Homo sapiens: one gene and its partners. The protein of the gene in region 3 interacts with the protein of the main gene of each other region in a biochemical or structural test. Each region holds a gene or a part of one and is shown on either strand. Other genes may lie near its edges.

The links.
Region 1: the proteins of MPP7 (region 3) and SLC9A3 interact in a test that uses a peptide from one of them, tested with the Homo sapiens proteins (one large-scale study listed by IntAct).
Region 2: the proteins of MPP7 (region 3) and MYOT interact in a test that uses a peptide from one of them, tested with the Homo sapiens proteins (one large-scale study listed by IntAct).

The regions. Positions count from the first base shown.
Region 1 is NC_000005.10:514,300-517,958, forward strand, and holds part of SLC9A3 (sodium/hydrogen exchanger 3 isoform 1 precursor), read right to left. Parts: intron 1-3,659. UniProt on the Homo sapiens protein: Plasma membrane Na(+)/H(+) antiporter. Exchanges intracellular H(+) ions for extracellular Na(+) in 1:1 stoichiometry, playing a key role in salt and fluid absorption and pH homeostasis.
Region 2 is NC_000005.10:137,877,820-137,881,478, forward strand, and holds part of MYOT (myotilin), read left to right. Parts: intron 1-2,488; exon of another isoform or gene 2,489-2,996; coding exon 2,997-3,046; exon of another isoform or gene 3,047-3,659. UniProt on the Homo sapiens protein: Component of a complex of multiple actin cross-linking proteins. Involved in the control of myofibril assembly and stability at the Z lines in muscle cells.
Region 3 is NC_000010.11:28,050,428-28,052,872, reverse strand, and holds the end of MPP7 (MAGUK p55 subfamily member 7), read left to right. Parts: 3' UTR 1-1,880; downstream 1,881-2,445. UniProt on the Homo sapiens protein: Acts as an important adapter that promotes epithelial cell polarity and tight junction formation via its interaction with DLG1. Involved in the assembly of protein complexes at sites of cell-cell contact.

The DNA of each region.
Region 1 (3,659 bases), on a different chromosome or scaffold from region 3:
TCCCAGGCTCTGTGCCGCCAGGGCTGTCCCTCCAGGGGCTCTGTCCCTCAGGGGGCTCTGAGGCCCAGCCTCCGGCCTGTGCCCTCCCTCCTCACCTCTGCAGAGTCACCCAAGACCAGTGGCCGCTGGCTCCCCCTTCCTGGGGCCCACCCTGCCCCCCGAGGCCCATCGGGTCTTGCCTGTCGGGGGCTTTGCTCACTGTGGCCCCTCAGGCAGTCCTGCCCAGTGGCTCCCACATCCAGTAGGTGGGGAAGGAGTGGTACGGCCCGCTGAGGGCCCCATGAGGGCCGGGTTCTAAGGGGAATCTGCCTTCACCGTCTGGTCAGCCCCGTGTCCTCTGCACCAAACATCTGGGGCTGAATCTGAGGACGGAGCCCGCAGTAGCTGCTGTTCTTCCACACTTTGTGTCACCCCCAAAGCTCTTAAAAACAGGCATTTTCAACTTTCCCATTCAGGCTTAAAGAAACCCTTTCCCAACAAAGAACTCAAACCCTTGGACTTTGGCATGACAGCTCAGCAGGCGGTGAGCCTGCAGGTTCCCCGATCCACCAGAAAGGAGGAAGCTGCCAGTGCGTCCCTGGCTCCCGCTCCTTCCCTCTGCCCTAGCCCTGCACAGTCCAGAAGGGGACCCTGGCTCTGTCCCTCCCCAGGGCTGGCTCCCAGAGCCAGATAGGGGGTCCCGGCTGGGATGGTCCAGCACAAAGCCCTCGGGGATGCACTCAAAGGCCGCCCTCCAGGGACCAGGAGCTTGGCACAGGTCACCTGGTCTTTCCCTAAGGCAGAGCCTTCCATGGGGAGACATGGGGAGATTTCTCGGCCCCCCACTCCTCACCCCAGAGTCCATGGGGAGATTTCTCGGTCTCCCACCCCAGAGTCCATGCCATCAGCCTGGAGTCTCTGTCACAGCCCTAACCACCCCCAGCACAGCAGCACAAACGGCCAGGCCCATTCCCAGGATGTGCCGCTCCCCATTTGTGGAATTCCCACAGCCCCTCCTGCTCTGCCCGCCCCTCCCTCCTTCCTTTCAGGCCCCTGTGGACGGTGCACACACGGGAACCCCTTGGGCACCCTGGCTGCTCTCCTGACTCCACCTGGACACGGCCCCAGGCTCCATCTCAATTCTTCCTAGACTGACGACACGACACTTTGGAAATGGACTTGACACACAGCCAGCCCCAAGGGAAGGCTGGCAGTCGGATAGAACAGGGAGCCCAGAGCTCAGGCTTGTAAGGGCACTCGCCAATGTGAGGGAGCAACCCAGAGCTGAACATGGTCATCACACGGCCAGAGTGCAAGGACCACCTGCTGCTCCTGCTTATCCTCCACAGGGTCCCCTGCTCCTCAGACACACACACACATCCCGCTGCTCCTGAAACACCCACACATTACCGCCTGCCACTCACAAACCCATGCACAACCCCTGCCACTCACACACCCACACACTCCCCCTGCCCCTCACACACACACACACTCCCCCTGCCCCTCACACACACACACTCCCCCTGCCCCTCACACACACACACACTCCCCCTGCCCCTCACACACACACACTCCCCCTGCCCCTCACACACACACACTCTCCCCCTGCCCCTCACACACACACACTCTCCCCCTGCCCCTCACACACACACACTCCCCCTGCCCCTCACACACACACACACACTCCCCCTGCCCCTCACACACACACACTCCCCCTGCCCCTCACACACACACACTCCCCCTGCCCCCTCACACACACACACTCCCCCTGCCCCTCACACACACACACACTCTCCCCCTAACCCTCATCCACACTTTTTGCCTCGGGCACTTCGCTCTGGCTATCCCTTCCCTGGACATGCTTCCCCCTAACCCACAGGGCTGGCTGCCCCCTCTGCCCCAGGGATGGCTTCCTGACTGTCTTTGGTCCTTGGTGCCCAGGAGTGCTGCCCCATGGGATATTTGGGTCTCATTTGAAGTGGGATCCCCACTGCCTACAGGGCGTGATGGGCACTGAATGTTTATTGAATGAATATTAAACTGGAGAGAGCTCCTCCATTGCCCAGAGCGCTGGCTGCTGCAAAGTCCAGCATTTTGGGCTACCTCGATAAGACGGATGAGACCATTCAAGCTCCTAAAAGTGGTTGGTATGCTAAGGGTATTGGCTGCCTGTGACCCGAGTTCTATTCTGTGTCCCAGGAGGGTGCCAGGTTGGGCAGTTCCAGCACCAAGTCAGGGCCTGCCCAGGGTGTGTCTGCATCTTCCGAGGTCTGGCAACATCAGGATGGGGCTGGGTTTGTCTGTCTTATTCCAGAAGGCATATAGCTAAGGCATAGCTAAGATTTCAGCTGACAGTGGAGCATGTTTTAGGCCAGGTGAGCGTGGTTTCTCTCTGGGCACATGACCCACTCCTGAGAGAGCTCTGTGTGGGGCAGATGGTGCTCACCATGCTGAGCCCAGATCTGCCAAAGTGCTCTGAGCCGATGCTGCAATTGCTTGTCAATGATCCCACTTTGCAGGTTAAGTCTGCCACTCCTTGGCAGGCGGCGCCTCTAAAGCCATTGTCATCCAGAAGTAGGTGTGCTGCTCACTGGAGGCTCTGCAGTAATTTAAGGAAATAATTCAGCCGAGGAGCTGAGACAGCCTCTTCCTGGGCCCAGTGTCCAGATGGTTTTGGATGAAGCTTACACATGGGAAGCCAATGTTTATCCCTCCACTCCTTCACTCTCCCATGTGTGCATTCATCCATCCATTTGTCCATCCACTCATTCGTTCATTCCTCCTTCACCCACCTGTGGGTGCATCCATCCATCCACTCATCCATCCATCCATCCATCCACATATCTACCCATCCTTCCGCCCATCCCTCCATTTACTCATCCATTCACCCATCCACTCACTCATCCATCCATCAATCCACTCATCCATCCACCAACCATTCACGCATCAGCCATCCATCCATCTGTCCATTCACTCACTCACTCATTCATCCATCCATTCACTCATCCACCTATCCACTCATCCATATATCCATTCATTCACTCATCCATCCATGAGTTCACTCACCCACCCATCCATCAATCCACTCATCCATCCATCCATTCACTTATCCATATATCCATTCATTCATCCATCCATCCATCAATCCACCCATCCAACTATTCACTCATCCATTCATCCAAGCCATCTATCCATCCACTCATCCATCCATCAGTCCACTCATCCATCCAGCTATCCATTCACTCATCCATCCATCAATCCACTCATCCATCCATTCACCCATCCATCCATTCACCCATCCACCTATCCATCCATCCACTCACTCACCCATCTATCAATCCACTCATCCATCTATCCATTCACTCATTCATATATCCATTCATTCATCCATCTATCCATCCATCCATCCATCCACCCATCCATCCATTCACCCAAGCCATCCAGCCATCCACCCATCCATCCATTCACCCATCCATCCATCCATCCACCCATCCATCCACTCGTCCATTCACCGAAACCATCCATCCATCCAAACCATCCATCCATCCATCCATCCATCCACTCATCCACCCATCTGACCATTCACTCATCCATCCATCCATCCACTTATCCATCCATCCACCCATCATCCATCCATCCATCCATTCACTCCATTCATCCATTCGCTCATCCACCCTTCC
Region 2 (3,659 bases), on a different chromosome or scaffold from region 3:
GATACACAACGTCACAAAATCAAAACACAAGAAGTCTAATGGTATTATTTTTTATCAGGACATTTATGGGTCAGTTAGACCTAGGACTCTCTATGGTGTCTACACGGACAGGGAATATATGGGTTGTGAACCTCCAATAGGACAGAAATTAAGATTATAAATGAAAGTAATTATAACCTTTCTCATAAGCTGTTTAACATTTCAATGTTTTAAAATATACTTGTGGTACTAATGAAACATCCAATTCCTTTTGTTATATTCCTGTTTTCAAAAAATGCTTTCTGAAAACCAAAAAAAACCCCTCATGAGTAATTGTTCTAAGATTAACAAATGTATCCTTTCCAAGAAGGGTTTAACTTTATGGTGGCACATCCCACAGGTTTGCACCTGATCGATTTTTTTTTTTTTTTTTTTGAGACAGTCTTGCTCTGTCACCCAGGCAGGCTGGAGTGCAGTGGCACAATCTCAGCACACTGCAAACTCCACCTCCCAGGTTCAAGTGATTCTCCTGCCTCAGCCTCTCAAGTAGCTGGGATTACAGGCGCACACCATCAGGCCCAGCTAATTTTTGTATTTTTAGTAGAGATGGGGTTTCACCATGCTGGCCAGGCTGGAACGCCTCGGCCTCCAAAAGTGCTAGGATTATAGGCATGAGCCACCACGCCTGGCCTCAACTTGATTTTAACAAGTAAACTTAACCCCAAAGAAAAATGTACAGTTGGTGGCTGGGCACAGTGGCTCACGCCTGTAATCCCAGCACTTTGGGAGGCCGAGGTGGGTGGATCACGAGGTCAAGAGATCGAGGGGATGCTGGCCAAAATGGTGAAACCCAGTCTCTACTAAAAATACAAAAATTAGCTGGGCGTGGTGGCCTGCGCCTGTAGTCCCAGCTACTCAGGAGGCTGAGGCAGAAGAATCGCTTGAACCCGTGAGATGGAGGTTGCAGTGAGCCAAAATCATGCCACTGCACTCCAGCCTGGGTGAGAGAGAGACTCCATCTCAAACACAAAAAAGAAAAAAGAAAAATGTTCAGTTGGACAGGTAGACTGAATGTTAGCACTCTTTCTTCCTTCATAGTTACCTTCCATTCCCTCCAAAAAGTCCACAAGAAACTGGGAGCCAAAGAGATTAAACCAGGAACACAAATATTCCTAGCTTCCAAATGTAGAAAACTGAAATTCAGTTTTTTTTTTCCAACATCTACTTCCCAAGTTCAAGTGATTCTCGTGCCTCAGACTCCCAAATAGATGGGACTATAGGTGCGCACACCGTGCTGGCTAGTTTTTGTATTTTTTAGCAGAGACGGTGATTTCACCATGTTACCCAGGCTGGTCTCAAACTCCTGAGCTCAAGTGATCTGCCTACCTCAGCCTCCCAAAGTGCTGGGATTACAGGCATGAGCCACCACACCTGGCCTTTGAAATTAAGTTTTTTGGTTCTGTTTGATGCAACTACACCTACTAAAAAGGATGGAAGAGGGTCTACCAGAGCAAGAACTAGAAACTGAAAAGAGAACTTAAATTTATTTTTGGCTACTAAACAGTTCATGAATTCGTTCATTCAACTAATTTACATGGAGAACCTACTTGTATGTTGGGCTCTGCACTTGGTATGGAAGATTATAGCAAAAATGAGACACAAACTCATCACTATTAGGGGAATTACTCAAAGCAATATTATACTGATGATGGTTCATCTTTTTTTTTTTTTTTTTTTTTTTTTTGAGACGGAGTCTTGCTCTGTCACCCAGGCTGGAGTACAATGGCGCGATCTCGGCTCACTGCAAGCTCCGCCTCCCGGGTCCATGCCGTTCTCCTGCCTCAGCCTCCCGAGTAGCTGGGACTACAGGCACCTGCCACCACACCCGGCTTTTTTTTTTTTTTTTTTTTTGTATTTTTAGTAGAGACAGGATTTCACCTTGTTACCCAGGATGGTCTCGATCTCCTGACCTCATGATCCACCTGCCTCGGCCTCCCAAAGTGCTAGGATTACAGGCGTGAGCCACTGTGCCCAGCCTGGATATTTTTAATTGGATTACTTTTACTTTACCAAAAAATTAGTTGATTTGTTTGATCACTGAATTGACCAGTTGTCTTGATATTTTGCTTAGAGAACCTTAAGGCTAGCCAAAAATTGTTACAGAGTTGTAAGACTTTTGCCTTAAAAATGACAAAATACATTAGCTAAATAGATTCATCCCAAAGCAAATTATTTGTACTCAGATCTTGTGTGCTCCTACAGAGCTTTGGGTAGGGACTGTGTTTTCCACTTTGTATCTCCCACTGTGCTAAGCACAGTGAAACGCAAAATACACACTACTTAATCAATTAGTTCTCTTATAATTTTCATAAATCCCTGATTTTATTCTCAAATAGAAATAATTTTCTGCTGTTCGGATATAAATCCTAAAAGATGTCTGCTTAAATACAACTTTATTAAACAGGAATTAATGCTATTTTACAAAGCTTTTTCAAAGCCTTACACATACCTTTCGTGGAGTCCATCAGGATTTTGTGCCACGAGCTAAAAAGAGAAGAATTTTCCAGTCTAATATGTGTTTACTGCTGTTGGTGCCACTTTTGAGCAGCAGGCATAATACCCTGCAGCTACTGCCAATACAAGTGACTTCATGTCTATTCCTGTTTTACTAAAGGACAATCTGTACTCTGTGCTCCCATTTCAAATGCACCAGGGAGACACATCACCCTTTGTCATAAAATAGTCATCTGAAAAATGAACCACCATCAATTCCAAGTCTAGCTAATTTTCATAAATAATACTTGTTGAATAGTCCCATTAATTCTGGGCTTCTTGCTAGAGTGGTAGTATGTTAGTGCACTGTACTTTAAGGGCTTAAAAGCTGAATATATAGAACTTACCAGGGCTGTTCAAATACAGCCAAAATAGGAATGTTCCTTTCAACTGTAACTACTTAATTCTGCTTCATTCAAGCTAACAATTGCATGTAAACATTCTTACTTTGTTTTAATTTCAAGCAACACAACTCAGAACATGCGCGACTGCAAGTTCCTACATCACAAGTAAGGTAAAAAATTTTAATTTTAAAGAAATGTATGTTTTCCTATCTAAAATATTTTCAGCTTAAAAATGTAATATTTATAAAGCCCTCGAGCCTACTCTATACCTTTTGAAAAATACAATGTGTATTTTCTAATGTCTGAGAAGATGACCAAAATTTTGACGTTCATCATCAAAACTATCACAGGGGAATTTTTTAATGTTTTGGTCAAATAAGCCAGGATCATGCTTCTATATTAAACAATTTTCTCATGACAATGGAGACCTAATTCTTATTATACAATCTTTGGTGGTAAGAATAATCTGCTGGGTACTGGGCATTTTAATAGACCATTTCTTCATCAATTCATGGCACTGTAAAAGAGAAACTAAGATGTACAATTTGTACCAGATGTTTCTAAATTGCTACCATTTCTAATAGTCATCAAATATGCCACAGGTAAATACAGCCCTAAGGCCTCTCTTCATTGTTATTACACTATCAGATCAAACAGTAGATTCTGTGGTTTCAAATTTGATGGCTAGGCTGGACGCAGTGGCTCACACCTGTAATCCCAGTACTTTGGAAGGCCGAGGTGGGTAGATCACCTGAGGTCAGGAGTTCAAGACCAGGCTGACCA
Region 3 (2,445 bases):
AAGAGAGCATATCCTGCCGTTCTTGCATGCAGTGAAGCCCTGCCCGTCGAAAATCATTGCATCTGTGACTTTCAAAGTGGAAAAAAAAATGTTATTTTTTTGTTGATTTGTAAAGAGAGTTTAAATGTCATGTGAAAAAAAATAGAATGTAGTAAAATTCTATATATTTATGAAATATTTTAAAGGCATATTTTTTTAAATATCAAACGGGGCTATTCATAAAATAAACTGATTGTATGTCAAGATGTCCTAATTTAAAAGAGTAGTTTTATAAATCATGGTCAACATTCCATGTAAATATTTGAGCTTTACAAAGATAGATCCAAGTGTGCGATCTGTGCACTGCACATTTGATAGCATTATTCACTGGTTTTCCTTCATACTTGTCAAGTTCATATTAGAAGCAGAGACAAAAACCACTCCAATGGCCTTGACACATAGTCACACCAAAATAGATAATCAGACTAAGTATTATATAACAACGTGATCCAGACAGTGAGTTCTAAGTGTATTAATTAAATAGCAAAAAATTTTGTTTTTAAAAAATGAAAGAGGGAGGGTTGCCAACCTGAAGTCTTAAGTAGATTGTTTGGGTAGCATATTTCCTTCTTTGAACATTGTCTGAAATTTTCTATAAATCAAGACTTCTTGTACAAAGAATGATGGGACATATGTAATAATTCAGGCAATCACCTGAGTAATTTAGGCAGTCCAAATTCTTTACCCTGAAATACCCACATTTTAAAAAAATTGCAGATAATTGCTTCAGTTATTTACTTTGGGGACAGAGATATAGTGTAAAGTGGGAGAAACTGAGTCCTTTTTTGGTGGTGGTAATAATAAGATGTTATAAAAATATAACATTTTAAAAAAGAAAGGTCCAGACCTTAAGCGCAGAGCTAGAACAATATTTTTTAAATAATGGGGGGAAAAGGGGGCACTTTGGTAATTTTAGAAATCAGGTAGTATACTTTTTTTTTTTTTTTTGAGACAGGGTCTTGCCATGTTGCTCAGGCTGGTCTTGAACTCCTGGGCTCAAGCAATCCTCCTGCCTTGGCCTCCCAAAGTGCTGGGATTACAGGCATGATCCACCGTGCCCAGCCGGTAGACGTGGTCTTAAAAACAGTGTTTACATGGCCATCTTGATGCTTAGAAAGATAATTGATTAAAATTTAATAAGGCAGGGCCAACTCCGAGAGTTCATTGACAACGGCAGCAAAAAGGCCCTGAATTCTGTACTTTCTTCCCCCAGCCTCCTTCTCCAGCAAGGAGAATAGCACTCCTCCCTCCAGAAGCCAGCTCCCTAAGTTGGAGCCACTATGTAAGAGAAGAGGAACGTTCACTTTTTAAAATTCATATATTTAAAAATCAAGACCAAAAAGTAAATTCTGTACTCCTATTATTGACTGTAGTCAATCAAACATAAAAAGGTGAAAGTAAAATTTAATTTTTTACCCTTATTTTACTGACCAATATGGAAGTTCTTGGTATCTTTAAGGCTGACCTTCCTGGTATTGTGTAATGATTGAATGTATCTAAACTGTAATAATTTGAAACTGACAAACATAACCTTCTCAGACTTACAAAACTATGTTCTTTCTAAAGATACAGATTTTTATTATTTTATTTTGACTAGGAAGGATTTATAAATAAATGTAATGAAAAATCTTTGATCTTAATAAAGTACCTTCAAACAGTGTGTGTACTTACTTGAAAATTGTTTTTGCACTTGGATATTCTATTTTATTATACTACTATTGTGATCTATTCCATTATACTATTTCCCATGGTAGAACAAATTATATTTTCTACTGTGATATGAAGTGATGTAATTGAACTTGCCATGTCTAAAATTAAATTTCATATTTTTTTCAATCAAACACTGCTTTCATCGAGGCTGTTGGAGAGATGGAATTCACTAGTGTTGTTCTTACCCATACATTCCAGCAATTTAAAAATGTGGAGAACCTTAGTGGGAAGGAAGAATTAGGACCATCAATGATGGGAACACACCTCCCCCACTCCCCACCTCCTCTCCCTCCCTCCCACTAGGAATCAGTGTCACACATATCCTCTTCCTGAGCTCCAGTTAGGCGAAACTCAACTTTTTCAACTGTGCATATAGGAACAGATTGTCATCTGCTATGCAAACTAGCTAGCATTGGCCTTGCTTCAGTCCTCGAGCCAGTTAGCCCCAGCTGTGCATCCATAGAAAGGTTGCTCTGAAGAGCATTTAAAAGCATTTAAGAGCATGGGATCTGGAGTCAGAATTCTTCAGTTCACATTCTGATTTTGCCTGTTTCCAGCTCTGCAGCCTTGGGAAAAACACTGAACCTCTCTGTTTTTCATTTTCTCATCAGAAAAAAATAGGGACAAGAACAGTGATTACCTCATGGGATTGGTGTGGGCATGAAATGAAAGAATCCATGTATACTTAGAACAAAA